Linked DNA regions of Homo sapiens: all the other regions are linked to region 1. Evidence: fine-mapped expression QTL. A gene starts in region 1. Each other region holds a variant in brackets. All regions are shown on one strand. Distances are between the middles of the regions.

The links.
Region 2: its variant is fine-mapped to the expression of DNAJB5 in whole blood (TOPMed, PIP 0.96).
Region 3: its variant is fine-mapped to the expression of DNAJB5 in whole blood (INTERVAL, PIP above 0.99).
Region 4: its variant is fine-mapped to the expression of DNAJB5 in whole blood (TOPMed, PIP 0.97).

The regions. Positions count from the first base shown.
Region 1 is chr9:34,987,178-34,992,323 of GRCh38, forward strand. It overlaps DNAJB5 (DnaJ heat shock protein family (Hsp40) member B5), which reads left to right and starts at 2,568. Exons shown (of 5, transcript NM_001349723.3): 1 at 2,568-2,654; 2 at 3,322-3,635. The coding sequence starts at 3,454. It overlaps DNAJB5-DT (DNAJB5 divergent transcript), which reads right to left and starts at 2,202. Exons shown (of 2, transcript NR_109756.1): 1 at 1,982-2,202. RefSeq lists enhancers at 1,989-2,198, 2,753-3,682, 3,683-4,612 and silencers at 2,309-2,808, 2,323-2,471.
Region 2 is chr9:35,521,546-35,526,691 of GRCh38, forward strand. All of the region lies in intron 1 of RUSC2 (RUN and SH3 domain containing 2), which reads left to right. Among named protein-coding and RNA genes, the nearest start is that of RUSC2, 34 kb to the left of the region's middle. The variant A/T (reference allele first, on the strand shown) is at 2,284.
Region 3 is chr9:35,044,413-35,049,558 of GRCh38, forward strand. SPATA31G1 (SPATA31 subfamily G member 1) reads left to right here. Exons shown (of 2, transcript NM_203299.4): 2 at 1-1,574. The coding sequence ends at 1,457. It also overlaps the pseudogene RN7SL338P. Among named protein-coding and RNA genes, the nearest start is that of SPATA31G1, 4.7 kb to the left of the region's middle. The variant C/CA (reference allele first, on the strand shown) is at 2,314.
Region 4 is chr9:35,105,731-35,110,876 of GRCh38, forward strand. ATOSB (atos homolog B) reads right to left here. Exons shown (of 9, transcript NM_025182.4): 2 at 2,864-3,007; 3 at 1,651-2,619; 4 at 1,103-1,161; 5 at 808-913; 6 at 522-680; 7 at 211-279; 8 at 1-127. The coding sequence starts at 2,544. Among named protein-coding and RNA genes, the nearest start is that of STOML2, 5.2 kb to the left of the region's middle. RefSeq lists an enhancer at 3,597-3,741 and a cis regulatory region at 3,661-3,678. The variant A/G (reference allele first, on the strand shown) is at 3,216.

The DNA of each region.
Region 1 (5,146 bases):
GAGTAATGGTTAACTTGGTTGAGTTAACCAAGTTAACCATTGGTTGGGTATAAACTACATGCCCAGCTCAGAACTAAGTGCACTACCTGTGTTACCTTAATTAACCCTCTCAACAACCCCCTGAGGCACCAATCCCCATTTACAAAGGAGATGAGGCATGAGTGTGGCGTGTAAGCTCACAAGGTGCATAGACTCCAGACCACACTGTCACAGTCCATGCCACACTGAGCACTACACACACGTGACACCCAGGACAATGGGACTGAGGGCGGGAACCGAGGACTAGGCAAACAGTGGAGTCTGTGCCACCAACACCTGAAGGCACAGTTCTGCACCCTCAAAGGTCCGAGCCTACACTTTAGCATTAGCAGGGGCCAGGTAAAGGCTGGTGACTAAACTCTCTGCCTCCGTGTTGGCACAGGCAAGGCTGGGGGAGGCAAAAGAGACAGAACTGGAATAGGAAGAAGTAGAGCCACCCACAGCCTGGGCCCCACAGGTGTGGAGGTGGAAGAGTGAGAGCCCCCAGATCTGAGGAGCCAGCAGCGGTGCAGGGCCCCTCACCCCACCTTACCCATCTCTGTGTCACACAGAGATGTCCATCCCTCCTCCCTCCCCTCCCCCTTCCTCACTCCTCCTCACCCCATCTCTGTGCCTCATCCTTTCATTACTCACCCCTTCTTTCCTCATCCCTCACCCTGCCTTCCTGCCCCTCCCCAGCCCTTCTTTCCTTATCCCCCACCCTGCCTTCCCTCCCCTCCCCAGCCCTCCTTTCCTCTGCCCTCCTTACTCCCACCCTATGGCTCATCTGCCCCATGCCCCTCCCCTCCTCATCCCCCTCACCCCATCTCACCATCCTCTCACCACCCCCTCTCCCTACCTCCCCCCCTCAACCCCATTTCCTCAAATTCCTCATGCTCATTTCCCCACATTCATCACCCATCTCTGCTCCCCTCCTGGCCCCCAACCCCACTTCCTTTCCATCCTCCTTTCACCCCAAGTCTCTTTCTTCCTTCACACCTCATGCCCCTTTACCCTTGGGAGCCCCATAGTGACTCCTGGCATGAAGGTAGGTAGTGAAGAATCTACAGACATGACTCCAGGACCCTGGCACCCCCCCCCCGCCTTGCTCTGCTCTTGGCCCAGGTACTCAAGCTGCAGTTTCTAGCAAGACCTCATGGGTGTCCAAACTCTGTCTCTGGAAAATAGGAAAGAAAGAAGTAAAGGGGAGCTTCCGGCCTGACCCTTCTATCATCATCAACCCCCCAGCACTCCCCTCCCCCACTTCACCCCCAAATTACTCCCTCCCCACCCCCGCTCCCTCGAGCACAGATGGGCCTGGGAGACAGTGACGTGGGCGCCAGGCACCGTGTCTGCTGGAGTGGCGGCTTCCGCTGGCGACCGCCTCCGCAGCCCCGCCTGCTCCCTGCATCGGGGACACTGGGGCTGAGATCTAATGACTTAATGGGGGGTGGGGGAGACTAGAGATTCTGAGGGTGTTAAGGAAGGGGATCTTGGGGAGTGAGATGAAAGATGAAAGGGGAGAGCTAGGATAGGAGATCGGGGTGTAAAGAAAGAACCAAGAATAAGACAAAAGGGATCACTGCGGGAAGGAAGACAGGAGATCATCTAGGGCCAAGAAGGAAAGGGCTAAAACACAGGCACTCCAGGGGGAAGCAGGATGAGAGACTGATTAGAAGAGGGACTGAAATGGAGACCGCGGGGTCGCTGAAGAGGGGCGCGAGGATGAGGGGCTGTACAGAGGGTGGGCGGGGGAGATTCCTGGAGGCACCGGCCTGGGCAGAGCCATCCGTTTCCCTCGGGGGAGAGGTCCGGGGGGCTCTGAAACCCGGCATCCGTGGGGTCTGTTAGAGATTCCGTTAGGTCACATCAGGCCACCGCGGGGTCAGGATAAGGTAAAGCTAAATGAGGTCAGCTTGAGGTGGTTACACCGTTGGCTGAAAGGCGAGTAAGAAGTGCTGACCTTTTGGCCCCGGTCCAGGGACTACACCTCCCAGAGTGCACTGTTCTCTCCCTCTTGCCCCCCAATGAAGAAAGGAAAGAATGCACGGCCGCACGGCCAACTGGTGGGTACAGTTTTCCTTTAAGGCTGCCTTTGACGTCGCAAGGGTTCCAGAAGGTTCTCCTGGGATTCGAGCAGTGGCCAGTACGTCCCACCTTCTCAACCCGGAGATTGGACTAATATAGTTTGCCCCCGGGCTCGGGTCTGAGTCTCAGGCACGAACCAATAAAATCAAAGGGCGAGCGAGGTTGCCGCCCTCTGTCTTTTTCACCAATGGCACGACAAGATGGCAAAGAGGCGTGGTTGAGTGATCCCAGAGGGCGCCAATCAGATCCACACCAATCACTGCCTGGAATGTGTGCGCGTGTGGCCGGGTGACAGGGGCGGAGGATGGGCGGCTATCACCAAGCCGCTTGTTGAAAACTGCCCAATCACAGTGGAGGCTGAGCTGAGTGACAGGAAGACGGTTCAATGGGCGGCGCGGAGGCGGAGCCGTGGGGGCGGGCTCCCGGTCCCGCTATCGGCGGCCGGCGGGCAGGCGACTCCTGTCCCGGGTGGAGGCGGCGGAGCCGGAGCCGGGGGAGGGGGCAGCGGCTGTCTCACGGACCACGGCGGCGCCCGCAGCTCCTCACCGGTGAGGGCGCCAAGCCAGGACTCGGGGGTCCCGGGAGCGGGGCGTCGTGAAGCCAGGGCTCCTGGTGTTGGGGGGTTGGGACACTGAGGGCCCGTAGGCTCTGCTGCCTTGGGGATGCGGGGCCCCGGGGTCTGCAGGGTGCTCGGAGTCCTAGACCAGGGCTTGGCTGTCACAGGGGGCAGCCAGCGTCTGAGTCGGGGAGGGGAGGGGAGGGGAGGGTCGAGTCGGACCGGACCAGATTGGGTTCTGTGGGGCGGAGGCATCTGTGAGCAGACCAGCCAGCCAGCGCGGGTGACATCACCGACCACCCTCCCCCGCCCGAGCCCCCTCCCCTCCTCTCCTCGCCGCGCCTTTTGTCCCGGCCGAGCTCCGCTCTGCCCCGCCCATCTGCGAGGGAGGAGACTCCCGTCAGTGACTTCATTGAGTAGGTTCTTGGGGATTGGGGTCGGGTCCTCCCCAGTGAGAGGCGACAGGAGCTCACTGCCTCTCGGGCCCTCACAATCACACCTGTCACAGGTATACACGCTGCCACTCACAAACACACGCTTGCACTCCCAGCCTCACTGACACGCTGCCATACAGCCGCTCACAGCCAGCCAGACACTGCTGCACCTGAGAGCAGGTGGCCGCGGGTCTTCTCCCTTCACTCTCCACATTTGGGGATCAGGTCCGGCACCTGCTGCGCCAGACAGGCCTTGCTGGGCACGCGCCTCTGAGAGTCCAAGGAGGTGGCTTCCAGAGCTGCAGCACTTCAGGCCGGCTCCGGTGGAGCGATCAGAGGTGAGGGGCTTGGCTGGGCATGTTTAAGCGCACAGTGCTCTCCTGCCCACCCCCAGCAGCACCCCCACTGCAGGCCCGAGGAGCTTTCCGGAGCTTCCCACACTCCTGGGGAGAAGACTTCTTAGCCAGCTTGATGTTTAAAATTCAGCTGGAGCCCTTAAAACTTCGAGCGTGGACGCTGAATGGGTTTGTAAAGTTTCGGTAAGTCCCTCCGGAGAAGGGCACTCACACCCATACCCAGTCAAACCCTCCACGCGGCCATCCCCTCCATTGCCTTCCTGCTTCCTCCAACTCATCCTCATCCCCTCTGTGACATACAGGAACCCCCCTCCGGCCTCACCCACATATTTGAATGAATTGCACCCCTTATCATTCCTTTTCTCAAACCCTTCAGGTATCCATTTTCCACAGACATTTCCTCCATTATTTCAACTCTCCACATTCCTCCCTTTCAACCCATCATTAACCCATTTTCCACCTCAGCCATTTCCATCTGTCACTCATCCCCCTCCATCAGTACCTCATTTTCTGTATCAGCCATCTCCCCTCCCTGTACCTCAACAGTCCCCCTCGCCATTTTCTCCCCATTTTTCCTTCCTGCCTCTACCTTAACATCCTCCTCATTCTTCTCCATCAAAGGCAGTGCCATGCCATGGGGCTCCTTTGTCATTCCAACACGTGGCCTGTGGGTAGGGGGGAAGGGAAGGAGGGAGGAAAGCAGAAAGAGAAAAAGGAGGCAGATCCTGAAAGAGCTTGCCCTGTGTCTGCGGAGGCAAGAGATGTATGGGCCTAGAGCAGCTAGCAGGTGGGTACCAGGGAGGAAGCTGGCCGGGTGTGGAGGTAATGCAGGGACACCAAAAGGAGGTGGGTGGTTGGTGAGCCGTTCCACTGGCCCTCTGCCTGGAAGCTGCTCTCGTTCTCTAGGGGCACCCTCTTGGTGTGCTAGGGTTCTTTCCCAGTCCCAGGGGAAAGAAGGTGTGGGTTGAGGCAGAAATGGCAGACCACCCCCCCCCGCTCCCTCTCAGACGGCTTTTGCTGCCATTTCCGAAAACGGTTGCCCCCCCCCCCAACGAGGTGCTCTTTCTTCTCTGCCTCTCCCAACCCCACCCCCCACCCCATCTCCCCCACAGACGTGACATGCTGGTGGGGGGCAATGGGGGAGTACCCGCCTTTGTGGAGCCTTTTCTTCGTCAGAGAAAGGTGACTCCCAGAACCATGAGTCAACCCAGCCACCTGCAGCAGGGCCTGTGGGGGCAGCAGTGAGGGCCATTGTCCCTGCCCACCTAGGGCCTTGGGCGCCTCCCCCTTACCCGGTTACAGGCCTCACTCCTGGAAGGACACCCTGTACACCTCCCTGCTGTGAAGCAGTCAGAGGCAGAAAGGCAGGTCTCAGCTGTGGCTGCCAGCCTAGGACATTGCTAGAAAGACTCTGGTTCTCCTGGCTTTGGCAGGGGTTGGCCAAGTCTCAGAAGGGCTGAGAATGGCTTCTGGCCATCCCCCAGAGAGCTCTAGCTACAGGAAAGTCCCCCTTCCCCTGATATCCACCACAGACACACCGATAGAGGGAGACTGGAATGGAAGAATTCGGGTTGTACGTTTCTCTTATAACAAATGCTCCTGCACCCACCTTAAAAGGGACTCAGAGGAATATGGGTCTGATGATGGGCCGGATCCTAAACCACAGGGTGGACTGGGGGCGTAGGGTGAGGCTA
Region 2 (5,146 bases), 530 kb after region 1:
GGTCTTTTACCTTTTAGGCTGCTAAGCCCATTCTACTTCAGAGCCAAGCCTCTTCTGGAATGTTTGTCTTTGACTTTTGGGGGTGGACGTTTAGCTGAACTTTTCTACAACATATGTGAGAAGCCAAAAGCAAACCAAGTTCTGTGCTTCGAAAGAGGACTCTATATTAAGGAAGCCTAATAAGGCAGCAACTGGTGTGTCTGGGACAGCCCTTCAGGCTAGGCCCTTTCAACACACTCCCAGCATGCCGTCTGGCCTCACTTGGAGTCCAAAATAACATGATACGAGTTAGAAACAGTGGCCTCCTCAGCTAGCAGCAGCTACACTCTACTTGGAGGAAAGACAGATGACCTCCTGGGCATTGGCTGCTATTCCATTTATGGAATCAGACTCCTGATGCCATAGCCAGGTGCTCTCAGCATCTAAGAACTTGTTTATTCTCTCTTTACAGTTCAGTCCTAGACACCCACAGGAATCACTGTTACCACCAGTTCTGAAATCTCCAAATTCTTTGAGCCTCTCTCACACATTTCACAGAGAAGTACTTGTCCTATAGGAAACTCAGAGCCTCCATCTAATCTCATGGCAAGGGTGGAGGGTAGCTGACTTTCCAAATTCGTGTACAAAGTTTATTTCTGTTCTGGGAAGTTAGGTTTGCTATTGGTGAAGTTAATCAACATCTGTTTACAAACATTTGATTTGGGAGGCATGAAAAAAGAGAGATGTTTCTGTCAGTTAATTATTTCACTCCCCATATCTCTAACTCCCAACAAACTATGGTCAGTTCTGCCTTTGCCTAGGGTTCCCTGGAGGTGCCTCTGGGGCCCCCCACAGTAAGGAGAGGGAATTGGAGTGCATGGGGCATTAGGCCTCCTCTGCTTCAACCAGGGTAGCTGTTTTATGTATTGGGGCTGAAAAATTAAAAGCATTGCTCTAACCCTTACACCCTGAAACTTTCTTTTTGCTGTTCTGGCCTCCAGAGGCATATTGGCAATTATTTTAACAAAATTATGAGCCCCTCAAATTGGGCTATTACCCCTGAACATCCAGCATAGCTCCTTATACACAGGAAGAATACAGTAGATGCTTGTGGCTTGATTGCTTGCTTGATTAATTGGCTCACAAGATGATATTAATTGATAGCCTCAGGATAATTCTAGATCAGAGAATAGAGTACAGTATGTAATAATTTATTTTGATTTGTTATGGTTTGAGCATTTCTGACCTTTGCTACTGGAATCAATCATGCAGTCTGAGGTGAAAACTTAGCCAAAAGGAATTACCTTAACTGAGGTTGTCGCTGTTGGAGAGGATACCCAGTAAGTCAGCACAAACAAAAGTACCTTCTGTTGATTTCCAAAGATTTGTATGATTTCAATCCACCTCTGTCCCTGGTGTACTGAGGTGAAAGGTCAGCAGAGTGATTATTGGGAAGACCAGGCATAGAGGTATACTAAAATCATATAGTCCTGTCTATTGATTAGTACTGCTTACTTTTGCTAAAAATTACCTTCTTGGACAGTTCCCAAAACTACTCATTGTCTTGATTGTGGGAAATGCAAAACTTTTCTCTGCTAAGCTATACTTATTAACAACATCTAAACTGTTTATCTGCAGCCTGCATTATACATCTGCATATCTTTTGTGAGGGTGGCTTTGTTTTTAATTAGCTTATATGTTTTATAAAATTATAATGTTTTTTATAAAGCTAAATAACAGGACATAAGTGAAAAAAGCAGCCACATTCAAATAAAGTCTGCCAGTTCAGTTAATTGTAATGTACTCAATGTTAATTGCTTTGTTTTAACAAATGTACCTTGATTACGTAAGATGGTAACATTAGGGAAACTGGTTAAAAGAGGTACAGGAACTCTGAACTATCTTTGCAACTTTTTATAACTGTAAATTATTCCAAAATAAGTAGTTAGCTTTTAAAAATTCATACACAGCAATAAAGGTCTTCACAATGAAAAAAAAAGCCAAATAGTGGCTGGGCGTGGTGGCTCATGCCTATAATCCTGTCACTTTGGGAGGCTGAGGTGGCTGGATCCTTGAGCCCAGGAGTTTGAGACCAGCCTGGGCAACATGGTGAAACCTTGTCTCTACAAAAAATACAAAAATTAGCCAGGCATGGTGGTGCATGCCTGTAGTCCCAGCTACTCAGGAGGCTGAGGTGGAAGGATGGCTTGAGTCCAGGAAGTGGAGGTTGCAGTGAGCCAAGATAGGGCCACTGCATTCCAGCCTGGGCAACAGAGGGAGACTCCATCTCAAAAAATTAAAAAA[A/T]AAAAATAAAAATTTAAGCCAAATAGTGCCAAATCTGGGGCAGTCTGAACATCAAAATCAGTAATGGATTATGACCCACTGACTTTTTAAAATCCAGGGGTCCATATTTATCCTAAATCAATAAATTAAGAAAGGAAGGAAAAGGGAAATCTTTATTATGTTAGAATGCCAACTAATCAATGTAGAAGGAATAATAGAAAATTGTCATTTTTTGGCCAGGCGCAGTGGCTCATGCCTGTAATCCCAGCACTTTGGGAGGCTGAGGTGGGTGGATCACTTGAGGCCAGGAGTTTGAGACCAGCTTGGCCAACATGGTGAAACCTGTCTCTGCTAAAAATACAAAAAATTAGCTAGGCATGGGGCACATGCCTGTAATCCCAGCACCTCAGGAGGCTGTGGGAGACGGAGGTTGCAGTGAGCCAAGATAGGGCCACTGCACTCCAGCCTGGGCAACAGGGTGTGACTCTGCCTCAAAAACACAAAACAAAACAAACCTGTCATTTTTCAACCATCATAGTAAATAACTGATTCAGATGAAACTCATCAATGGATGCTAAAATGATTGGATGAAAGTTTGATGGGAACAGGTTATTTATCTAATCTAAAAGTAATCTCTCCATAGATTGCTTATTAATTAGAGGAGAAAATGATAACTTTACAATGGAGAAACCTGACAGACACTATCTTAACGAAGGACTAGTTCAAAATTAGCATCATCAATAAAGTGATAAAATGACCTCATGTGTTGGGTTTTGTCTTGTTTTGTTCTGCATTATGTGTTTCTCCCAGACTCCTATTTTATGTTTTTGTTGTACTCTTTGTTTTCTGTTGGAGGCTGCCCTCAAAAGTCTGGTGATCCCAGGCCGGGTGCAGTGGCTCACGCCTGTAATCCCAGCACTTTGGGAGGCCGAGACGGGTGGATCACAAGGTCAGGAGATCGAGACCATCCTGGGTAACACGGTGAAACCCCGTCTCTACTAAAAATACAAAAAATTAGCCGGGCGTGGTGGCGGGCACCTGTAGTCCCAGCTACTCGGGAGGCTGAGGCAGGAGAATGGCGTGAACCCGGGAGGTGGAGCTTGCAGTAAGCCAAGATCGCACCACTGCACTCCAGCCTGGGGGACAGAGCGAGACTCCATCTCAAAAAAAAAAAAAAACTCTGGTAATCCCTTGGCTACTGATATAAAAATGAGCCATTTAAAAACACTGGAGGTTCTGTGAGAGTGGAAAGATATATCAACTGGCAAACTTGTCTGGTGGGCAGGTGGAACAGGCTGGCCTTTTTTTGTGTGGGGAAACCCCCAGAGAATTTGACATTCTTTTCTCTGAGGTAGTTCAGTTTCTGCAGAGAAATAATCTACCAGGGGTAGGGTGGGATAAATAAGTCTGGCTGTTGGTATTATCCTGAAATAGAAGGAAGAAGTCTAGCAATTCTTTGGAGATTTTCACCTAACCCCTCAGTTTTCAGATTGGCCTCTCATCCTGCTTTCTTCCATGCCTTGTTTTCCAGAGTCGAATGCAGTTCCACTCAAAGTTCTCCAGAAATAAATCTCCAGTAATCCTGAGGAGCAGGAGACCAGTGGTCTCCTGACAGTGTAGGGTTGTTGGTGGGGACTGGGTGTCTAATTACTTCTTCTACAAACTTTAACCAACATCCCTATTTTTTTTTTTCCTTTAAAAAGAATTTTTGGTCGAGCACGGTGGCTCATGCCTGTAATCCCAGCACTGTGGGAGGCCGAGGCAGGCGGATCACCTGAGGCCAGGAGTTCGAGATCAGCTGGCCTACACGGCAAAACCCCGTCTCTACTAAAAATACAAAAATTAGCCTGGCGTGGAGGCACACTCCTGCAGTCGCAGCTACTCGGGAGGTTGAGGCAGGAGAATTGCTTGAACCCAGGAGGTGGAGGTTGCAGTGAGCCGAGATCGCACCACTGCACTCCAGCAAGCCTCAGCCACCTTTAAACATATTTTTTAGGCCAGGTGTGGTGGCTTCTGCCTGTAACCCCAGCATTTTGTGAGGCCTAGGTGGGCGAATTGCTTGAGCTCAGGAGTTTGAGACCAGCCTGGGCAACATGAAACCCTATCTACCAAAAAAAAGAAAAGAAATACAAAAATTAGCTGGGCGTGATGGCACGTGCCTGTAGTCCCAACTGCTTGGGTGGTGGCCATGCAGAGTGAGTTCCTAGCATTTTAACAGTGCTTTATATTTCTATAAAATGGTCAGTTTACAGAGCACTTTCATGTACTGTTTTGAATAGACCACTGTTCAGATCTATAGTAGGGGGCATATGTTTCCCCTAAGCCTTCAACTCCCCATAAAGTAGCCTGGTCCAGGCACAGGAAGACTCAGTAACCAATGTTTATATTCATGCCTGCTTTATTTTGAGCACCCTGGATCTCTCTATTGCTTATGAAAGCTGCCCAGACCACTACTGAGTTCTGGAAGATGCTGGGATTGAGGAGTGGGGAAAGGTATCCATATCCAGTCTTTTCATGTTTCTCCAAGGTTACCGTCCTATTTTGGTCAGAATTGTGTAATCTCCTTTGTGGGGGTTTTGGATATTAACCAACATCTTATCACTTGATAATAGTATCACACTTACTGGGTATTTACTGTATGTCAGGCACAATTTAAGTGCTTGATAGTATTAATTCACTTAATGTTGGTGGTATTTTCATCACCATTCTACAGGAAATGGGGGCAGGGAAAGGCAAGATAACTGGCCTAGGATTACACAACACTCAAACAGATATTACCTCATCTTGTTAACTATTAAATGTATTGCATTCAGATTTTACTTGGTGTGGGGTACAGTGGCTCATGCCTGTAATTCCAGAGCTTTAGGAAGCTAAGGCAGGAAGA
Region 3 (5,146 bases), 57 kb after region 1:
AAAACTCCTGGGCCTCTAAGCACCCAGCTTGTAACTTACCCCAAGACCTGCATGGAGCCAGCCCTCTGGGAGTCTTGTCTGATTCTCAGTCTATTGTAGGGGAAATGGAGCAAAAAGAAAACTGTGTTCCTGTGTTCCCAGGTAGGGGCTCCAGCCCATCCTCAAACTCTGTTTCAAAGTCCCACGTAAGTGAGCCTATCGCAGACCAAAGCAACTATAAGCCTGACGGGGAGGCAGTGGAGCAAAGAAAGAACCACTGGGCCACTGAGCTCCCAGCCCCCAGCTCACTCTCTACTCCTCTACCAGAGCCACACATTGACCTTGAACTTGTGTGGAGAAATGTGCAACAAAGAGAAGTTCCCCAAGGCCCCAGCCCTCTGGCAGTGGATCCCCTACACCCAGTACCCCAGCCTCCCACCCTAGCTGAAGCTGTGAAGATTGAACGCACTCATCCTGGTCTACCCAAGGGAGTAACGTGCCCAGGGGTTAAGGCAGAGGCCCCACTCTCCCAGAGATGGACTGTCCCAGAGTTGCTCACCCATCCTGGGATCCATGCCTGGCAGTGGAGTAGAGAGCTGAAACTCAGGCTGAAGAAACTGCGGCAGAGCCCTGCCTCCAGAGCCCCTGGCCCAAGTCAATCATTTTGCAGCTCCCCTATTCTGAGCTCCACAATTCCAGACTTCTGGGGACTCCCTTCCTGCCCACCACAGCAGATTTATCCCCCCAATCCATGCCCCCACTCTTCAAGTTGTCATCCTCAAGAAGTTCAGCGCACAGTACCTCAGCCTGTCCAGTCCTCCCACTGTCATCACTTCCAATCCTCTTCCCAGCTTCAGCCACAGGAGTCTGGCAGGGCGGAACAAGGGTCTCAGAGAGGGGAGAAAATGAAGGGGAAGATGGTGAGCCAGGTCCCATCCCAAGGGCCATGTGTACACATGGAGGCTGGTGTGGACTATCTATCTCCAGGCCCAGGAGAACCCTCAAACTCTAAGGTTCTGGTCTCAGGCAAGAGAAAGGACAAGGCTTCAGCCTCATCCTCAGCCAAAAAGAGAGAGCACCCTAGGAAACCCAAAGCAGGAGACCATAGAAGAGGGACTGCAAGGTTGGGGTTATCCACAGTCACAGGGAAGAACCACCCTGCCCAGGCCAGAAGCCTAGTAGAGGCCCCTGTAAGCACATTTCCCCAAAGGTCTCAACACAGGGGCCAGAGCTCTCAACACACTGCTCTTCCCCAGCTGCTTCTCCCCAAAGCTTCGGGTCCCCAGGATCAGCCAGAGGCAGGGCGAAGAGCAAGTGACATCCTGACCCCTCGCCACTGTAAGCACTGTCCTTGGGCCCACATGGAGAAGTATCTCTCCTTCCCTACCCTCAAGGCTTCCCTTACCAGGGGTTTGCAAAAGGTGTTAGCCAAATGCCTGGATAACCATCGACCCCTACCCACCAAATCTAGTCAGTAGAGAAAAGGCTGGTAATACTAGCACTTGGTATGCCAAGACCTGAAGCCAAACCAGGGGGAAGGTGGGGATGTGGAGACAAGAAATGGAAATTCTAATAAACTAGCTGAATTAGATAAATCCCATTCATGTCTTCTTTGGAATCTAGGGTACTGAAAATGTCAATTCCCAATTCTGCTACAGCCATAGCCCCTCAGTTTCAAGTCCCAGTAGAGCACTCAGGATTCTGCAGGCTTAACTCTTTTGTGGATCTTCACAGATGATCACATCTGGAGTCCACACATCCCTACTCTATAGGGTGAGGCTACAGGGCCAGGTCAGCATAGCCCAAAGCCGCCCTTGAGAGGGAACGACTTCACAGCATGTGAACAAAAAACTACATCCATTCACACGAGCACAGGTCATCTGAGTCTAGGCAACTGTGCTTTGTCCTGGGTATTGTTCTCTTCTTCATCCACTTGACCTGTAAGTTCTCCACGTATCTTTCTGACCATTTCTTCTCAGCCCTCTGCTCTTTTCTCTCCCTGGGTCAGCTCATCCATCTCCAAGGCCATGAAAACAAGTGTCTTTTAATACGTCTAGTAACCGTCTGGATTTCTATAATCACCGGGTCATATCCTCTACCCATTTTCTAATGCACTATTTGTTGGACATTGTATTAGTCAATGTATTACAGTTTTCTACTGCTGCTGTAACAAATTACCACAAAACAAATTTATTTTGTCAGAAGTCTGACACGGAGCCTGGGTGCAGTGGCTCACATCTGTAATCCCAACACTTTGGGAGGCTGAGATGGGCTGATAGCATGAGCCCAGAAGTTTGAGACCAGCCTGGGCAACATGACAAAACCCTGTCTCTA[C/CA]AAAAAAAAAAAAACAAAAAAACCACAAAAATTAGCTGGGCATGGTGGTGCATGCCTATAGTCCCAGCTACTGGGCAAGGTGAGGTGGGAGGATCACCTGAACCAGAGAGGTCAAGGCTACAGTGAGCCACTGCACCACTACATGCCAGCCTGGGCAAAAGAGACCCTGTCTCCTCCCCGCAAAAAAAGTCTGACACATGTCTCACAGGGCTAAAATCAAGGGGTTGGCAGGCCTACATCCTTTTCTCTAGGCTCTGGGTAGGATTCACTCCTTGCCTTTCCCAGTTTCTAGAGGCTGCCCACATTCCTTGGTTACTGACCCCCTTCTTCTATCTTTAAAGCTAGCAAAGGCAAGTCAAGTTCTTCTCACATTGTATCACTCTGACCTCTTCTGCCTCCCTCTTCCACTTTTTTTTTTTTTTTTTTTTTTGAGATGGAGTCTCGCTCTGTCTCCCAGGCTGGAGTGCAGTGGCACGAACTCGGCTCACTGCAAGCTCCGCCTCCCAGGTTTTATGCCGTTCTCCTGCCTCAGCCTCCCGAGTAGCTGGGACTACAGGTGTGCACCACCTACGCCGGGCTAATTTTTTTGTATTTTTAGTAGAGACAGGGTTTCACCATGTTAGCCAGGATGGTCTCGAACTCCTAACCTCGTGATCCGCCCGCCTTGGCCTCCCAAAGTGCTGGGATTACAGGCGTGAGCCATTTTTTTTTTTTTTTTTTTTGAGACAGAGTTTCACTCTTATCACCCACGCTGGAGTGCAATGGCACAATCTCGGCTCACTGCAACCTCTGCCTCCTGTGTTCAAGTGATTCTCCTGCCTCAGCCTCCTGAGTAGCTTGGATTACAGGCATGCGCCACCACGCCTGGCTAATTTTGTATTTTTAATAGAGATGGAGTTTCTCCATGTTGGTCAGGCTGGTCTCAAACTCCTGACCTCAAGTGATCCACCCGCCTCGGCCTCCCAAAAAGTGCTGGGATTACAGACATGAACCACTGCGCCCGACCCTACCTCTTCCACTTTTAAGGACCCTTATGATTACACTGGACAAAGCTGAATAATCCAGGACACCCTTCCAATTTAAAGTCAGTTGATAGCCAGGCGCAGCAGTGGCTCATGCCTTAACAGTCCCAGCATTTCAGGAGGCCAGGGCAGCTGGATCGTTTGCGGCCAGGAGTTCAAGACCAGTCTGGCCAATATGGCAAAACCCCATCTCTACTAAAAATACAAAAATTAGCCTGGCATGGTATGTGTGCCTGTAATCCCAGCTACTCCGGAGGTTGAGGCAGGAGAATCGCTTGAACCCAGGAGGCGGAGGTTGCCAAGATCATGTCACTGCACTCCAGCCTTGACGACAGAGCAAGACCCTGTCTCTAAATAAATAAATGAAGTCAGTTGATTAGCAACCTTAATTCCACCTGGAACCTTAATGCCCCTTTTTCCATGTGAAATAATATATACATAGGTTCCAAGGATTACGACGTGGGCATCTTGAGGGCCATGATCCTGCCTACAGAGATAGTGACCCAAACTATTATGTATGTTCCAAATATTTTCTTCCAATTTGTATCTTATTGGCTAATTTTATGGTGACTTCTATTGTATCAAAGAAAAATTTTTTTATGTAGTTAAATCTACCAACACTTTACTTCATGACTTCTAAAACATTTTCTCCTGGCACTTTGATAATTTTGCATATTTATGTTTTAGATTACCGATTTTTATGGTATGAGGTGATAATCTAACCTTCCCCAAAATCATGTCCAATTTACCAATACCATTTTTTAAAAATAGAATGTCTTGAGCCCATTCCATTAAATATGGTGTATTGTAAAAACATGAGTCATTTCTAAGCATCTCTAGGCTTCAGGTCCCCATATTCAACAGCATACCAGACATTATCTCATATTTGACTTGTCCAAAAACGTATTTTCCCTTTAACTTTTTCCTCCAACACGCCCATTCCTATCAAAATGCATGACATCCACCTAAATACTTAAGCTTTGACTCTTCCTTCCTCCCTGATCTAAGCCATCACCAAATCTTGTCAGCCAGGCTCAGTGGCTCATGCGTGTAATCCCAGCACTTTGGCAGGCCGAGGTAGGAGGATCATTTGAGGTCAGGAGATCGATACCAGCCTGGGTGGTACCCCATCTCTACTAAAAACACAAAAATTAGCCGGGTGTGGTGGTGTGCACCTGTAATCCCAGCTACTTGGGAGGCTGAGGCAGAAGAATTGTTTGAACCAGGAGGCGGAGGTTGCAGTGAGCTGAGATCATGCCACTGCACTCCAGCCTGGGCAATAGAGCAAGACTCCATCTCAAAAAAACAAAACAAAACAAAACAAAACTTGTCAATTATACCTATGAAATGTATTTCAAATCCATCTTCCCCTCTCCATTTCCACCATCACTATTGTCTTAGTCATTATTTCTCACTAAATTGGTTGCTCTATTCCTTCTAATCCATCCTGCACATGGCTACAATTCTCTGGAGATCAACTGCCCCGATCTCTTCAACAAGTGTCATAAAAGTTTGAGTAAAAGGCTAGGGGTGGTGGTACATACTTATAAGCCCAGCTACTTGGGAGGCTGAGGCAGGAGAATCCCTTGAGCCCAGGATGTAGTGTGCCATGACGATTGGGAACCGAATGATGCTAAGTTTGGCATCAATAATGGTGACCTTCCAGAAGTGGGGGACCACCAGTGCCTAAGAAGGGGTGAACTGGCCCAGGTGGGAAACACAGCAGATAAAATTCCTGCACAGATCAGTAGCGATATAGCACCCGTAAATAGCCACTACACTCTTAGCCTGAGCAACAGAACGAAACCCTG
Region 4 (5,146 bases), 120 kb after region 1:
CCTCCTCACCCACAGGCACCAAAAAGAGGCGATGGCGCAGGAAGGTCATGTGGGCAGCAGGCATGTCCGAGAAGTCAAAGGTCACAAGGAACATCTTTACCACAGTCTGGTTGGGGTTAAATAAGGTCTAGGGACAGGACAGTCAAGGTTGGTAGGGCCTGAGGGCTGCTTTCCTCTCTCCCCACTCCCACTCCCTCAGGGCAAACTCACCACTTGGACGGTGCCCACCTTGGGCACGCTGTAACCCTTCCTCCCCAAGGGGTTCAGATCCACGATGCCCTGGAAGGCCAGGGAGCCATCAGTCAAGGTGGGGACTAGGAAAACCCTGGGCCCTAAACACATGTCCCTCTCCACAAGCTCTCACCCTGAACCTGCCCCTGCCCTACAGTAGAGTTCTCCTCACCTGGCCCTGACTCACTTCTAGGTGAGGAATAAGTAAGAAATACCTCTTGCCCCCTGGCCCCGCCCCCAAATCCTCATCCTCTTGATGAGCTGACTTTGGGGTTGGAGTCAAGGCATACCAGGAAGGGAGCCGGGGCATTTTGCTCAGAAACATCAAAGAATGTGACAGTGACAGGCAGCGTGACGTGCTGGGGGCAGTATGACCCACTAGCTCCAATTTCTGCTGTGAAGCCCTCAATGTGGCCAGATGGTGCAAAACGTCCTCGCAGCAATGATTCCTGGGATTAGGGTAGGGAAAACACATGAAGAGAGAGATGCCAATTCTTTTCCTTATCCATCCAAGCCACATTCCACCATCCCACCTCTCCCAGGACCCCGGCAATCACAAACCCCAACGGGAGCTACCTCAAAGTTGCCCAGCAGGGTACGGCTGACAGCAGGGGTAGGAACAGGGGAGGCACTGGGGGGGCTCAGCAGGCCTGGCCCCTTCCGGAGGCTTCGAAGGGGGCTCCTGGTAGAGGAAGGGAAACACAGGGGGTTGGCTTGAGGTATTCTGGGATTCCTGCTTATGCCCTTGGACTCCACCCTCTGCCACTATGTAGGGCTTCTGCCCTGGGGTCCCCTACTCGGATGCTGGAAAGAGTACAGACTTCTGCCCCCATTCTCAGGGACAGGGTAGAGGAAAAAGCTGGTCACTTACAGCTTCAGGCGACGGGCTCCTTTCAGCCTCCGCCCCATGGGACCGCAGTCTGTTGGGTCCTACGGAGAGAAATGATTGGGAAAAGACACAGGGTGAAGGCCATGTATGTTTTGGGGCAGAAGCTCATCACAAACTCTCAAAGGAACACCCTGCCCCCCAGGCCTCCACCTTTACCCACACAAATATCCACTTAAGAGTACATGAAGGACAGGCGCAGTGGCTTGAGCGCCTGTAATCACAACACTTTAGAAGGCCAAGGTGGGTCGATGATTTGAGCTCAGGAGTTCGAGACCAGCTTGGGCAACATGGCGAAACCCCATTTCTACCAAAAATACCAAAAATTAGCTGGGTGCAATGTCATGTGCCTGTGGTCCCAGATACTTGGGAGGCTGAGGTTGGAGGATCCCTTGAGCCTGGGAGGAGGAGGTTGCAGTCAGCTGAGATTGTGCCACTGCACTCCAGCAGTGATGGAGTGAGATCCCATCTCAAAAAAAAAAAAAAAAAAAAAAAAGTAAAAAAAGAGTAAATGAGGTCCTTTATTGGCTTACCAAAACAGGCTCTTTGGGCCCAGGCAGCAGGTGGCTCCAGAAGGGTGTGGCTTTGGCATCAGAACTGTTGGCAGCAGTAGGGTGGCCCAGGGATCCCCGGCGCCTCCGAGGGGCTGGCCCCTCTTCCTCAGAGCTGACATCTGGGGCTTCTCCAGCAGGAAGCAGCCTTCGCTTGGTGGGGCAGGGGCCTGGGGGTCCAGGGCCAGGGGGTGTGTGCTCGGGACTGTGCCCATTGGCAGTGCCAGGGGACTCCCTAGGCCAGAGGCTACCCCCATTGCCCACCCCAGCCACTGGGCTCTTACCCCCTATTTGTGCAAGACTGTGCAAATCAGTGTCAAGTGTGTGCAGCTGGCCTGGAGGGGCTGGCCCTGGGGACTCCCCCAGGGACCCCTGTCCCCCTGGATCTGGGGAGGCCCAGTCTCTGGTGTGCAAAGTATTGCAGGAAGCATTTGATGGGGGGCAGGGGGGACTCCAGGCCCCCGAAGTCCAAGATGAGGTGACACTACTTCTCTGTTCCACAACACAGAGGCCACGGTGGGAGAAATGCTGGCTGGCCACACCTAGTCCCAGCCCCGGTCCCTCTGGGCCTAAGAGCCCCACAGTAGATGGTTCTTCAGGGGGTAGTCCCTCTCTGGCCCCCAGCCCAGGGCCTCTCTTCAGCTCCCGGGGACCCTCAGTGGATGGGGCTTGTCGTTTCAGGGCCCTATGAGGCTCAGAGGTACCAGCCGGAGGGGAAAAGATGGATACCTGGTAGACCCCGGGGGATGTCGCCCCCCCTGCTGGGCTGTAGCCCATGAGCAGGCCACCCTGGAGGGCCCCCTGCCTGACTGGAGGCTGTGAAGGGCCAGCCTCCGGCTCTGAGGATGGAGACGGCTCCGCCTGCACGTGGCGCATGAAGCCCCCCTTGGGTCAGGGGGGCCCCCCAACACGGCCTTTATGCTGGGCCTGGGCTGGGGGGCCTGGGGACATCTGTGTAAGAGAAGAGAAGAAAAGGTGGTCAGGGGAATCAATGAGTCTTCTTCCTTCCAGCTGAGTTTCAGACCCTCTCCTTGCCTAAAGGGGTGACTTTGATGGGTTCCCAAGGATGAATGTGTACAAATCCCTGGATGGACTAATGGAATATAGAGACCACTCTCAGAACTCCTGAGAGGGTGACAGGTTTAGCTCAGGCTTCTTACTGGACACACTTCCCCCTCTTCTCCCTGGTACTTACCCCGATGAAGAGGCCTCAAGCCTAGCTGTGCGTCCCCTCTTCCCAACTGATGCCTCGTGCCCCTAGCTTGCAGTCTGATCCATGCCTGCTGCACTGGCAAGGTGACTGCCACCATTCCGTGCAGCTCCTGAGCTCAGCAGGACCCTGAGGAGAGAAGAACAGACGTAAGCCAGGATCACTGGAGCCAGCGGTAAGGCCTGTCACCAATTATAGGCTAATAGTACACTCCAGGACATCCTTCTCCCATGTGAGAGGCTCTTCAGGAACAGAAAGGGTAGGCTTGGGGTCCAGGGCACAGATGGCAGAGTTGGGCTACCTAAGGAGTCAAAGAGGCAGGTCTTGGCTCAGTATA[A/G]TAAGGATGTGACAAGTGAGTTGAGGTAGAATAACTACTTGTCAGGGCCACCATTTGAGGACTCCTGCCCTACATGGAGGAAGGGATGAGAGACCCCCAAGATCCAAGAGACCGTGTCAGCTGAGAGGCGGCCAGGGGAAGAATTCAGCTTTCTTACTCAAAGCCACCAAATTGCACAACTCCTTCTTATATGTCTATCTCCAAAGGGACAAGTGCCATCCTAGGGCACTAAGGGCAGAGGTCTCCCACACAGTTATACCCCATCAGCGGTCCTCAGAGGTACAAATTTCAAGTCAGCTCAGAGCTGGCCTTTCAGCCCTGAACTCCAAATTGCCTCCAGCAGCCTGTCTCTTTAACAAGAGGCAACAAATCCGACCAAAAACAAGAAGGGGAAGGGGAAGGGGTCACTGCCAGAAGGCACTTTCCAGGGCCCTCCCGCAAGGCCCTGCAAACTAGAGATAAGGCCGCAGCAGTCAGTCAGCTGGAAGCAACTAGGGAGTACCTCTCCACGCCCCTCCCCCAGTGCTCACACACCCAACACCAAAACCCCAAACCACGGGTGCATAAGATGGTCTTCACTAACTATTCCAGCCCATACTAGGGTGAGGGGAATGTCAAGTTGAAAGCCAGCTGCCCCCAGGGTCAGCCTTCTCTTTTGCTGTCTGACATTCACGGTGCTCTTTCCCCTTCAAGAAGTGCCCTTTGAATGCCTACCCAAGACTTTTCCTCCTTGGATAGGTCAAATGCCATCTCCTCCAGAAAGTCTGCTCTGTCCACCCCAGACCATAAGCATCTCTCCCTTCTCTGAGACCTCACCTATGGCAGTGTTACTACTTCCTGTAAGCTCACTAACAGTTCTGCTCACTCCTGTGGGTAAGGCATCTTCTAGACCGACCATAGAGTTCCTGAGGACAGATCTGTGTCCCACCCCTCCATCCAACCCCAAGTACAGGGGTAAGCACACAGCAGGGCTCAAAAAAAGTAGAATGCAAGTCCCAGACATCTGAGCAGCAGTCCTGAGAGTGGAGAGAAAAATTTCCCAGATGAGAGAAGCAGAGAGATTAATTGTACAAGGGAAAATCAGGAACAGAGGTGGGGGTGGGGAGCAGGCAGAAAGGAGAGATTTGTACCCAGGGACTGAAAAGCTCTCCTACACCAAGTTCCCATCATTGTACCCCACTATCCCATTTCACCAAATTCTCCTAAGAATTGGGATCCCTAAGAAAATCCTGGTTCCCTGTGGTGGGCGGGATGGCTGGAAAGGGCAGAACACCAATCGCAACCTGCACTATCCTACCTGCAACCAACCTTGTCAGAAGGTACAACCTGCACTAATTTCTACCCTTCTTTCCTCCACCCAAGCCATACAGATTCAGGAGGGGCCTTTTCCCTAGCACCACCACTTCCAGGTCATCCCAGTTGCCCTCTTGACCCCTTGCCCTGGGGAAGCCAGGGGATGACATGATGCCCTACTTGACCCCAGCATACCTGGCATCTGCTTATTAACCCCAGAGCCCTCTCAGTTCCCACCCTGTCAACAAGACGCTCTATATTCACTCCCCTGCCACCCAGCCAGTCTGGCTCTAGACCATGGCTTCAAGCTGACTCATGGGGCAGGACTGCAGGGGAGGGGGGCAGGGCAGAGTAGGCCAAGCCTCACTCTTCGTTCAGGGGGTGGGCAGCAGCTGGCATCAAACAGCTGTGCCAGGCTGTGGCTGGCAAGGACTACAGCTCCCAACATGCTGAGGGAGCAAGGCCAGCAAAAACAACAAGTCCCAGAATACGTCTGTACCTTTAGACACTTTTGAGGCCTGGGAGGTGGGTGAGGTGGGTATTGGTATAGGTATCAGCTTCAAGGCTCATTCTCCCCTTCCCTTCAGTATTAAAGATTTCCATTTCTACCATGATCAAGGAGAGTGACAGGATGAATT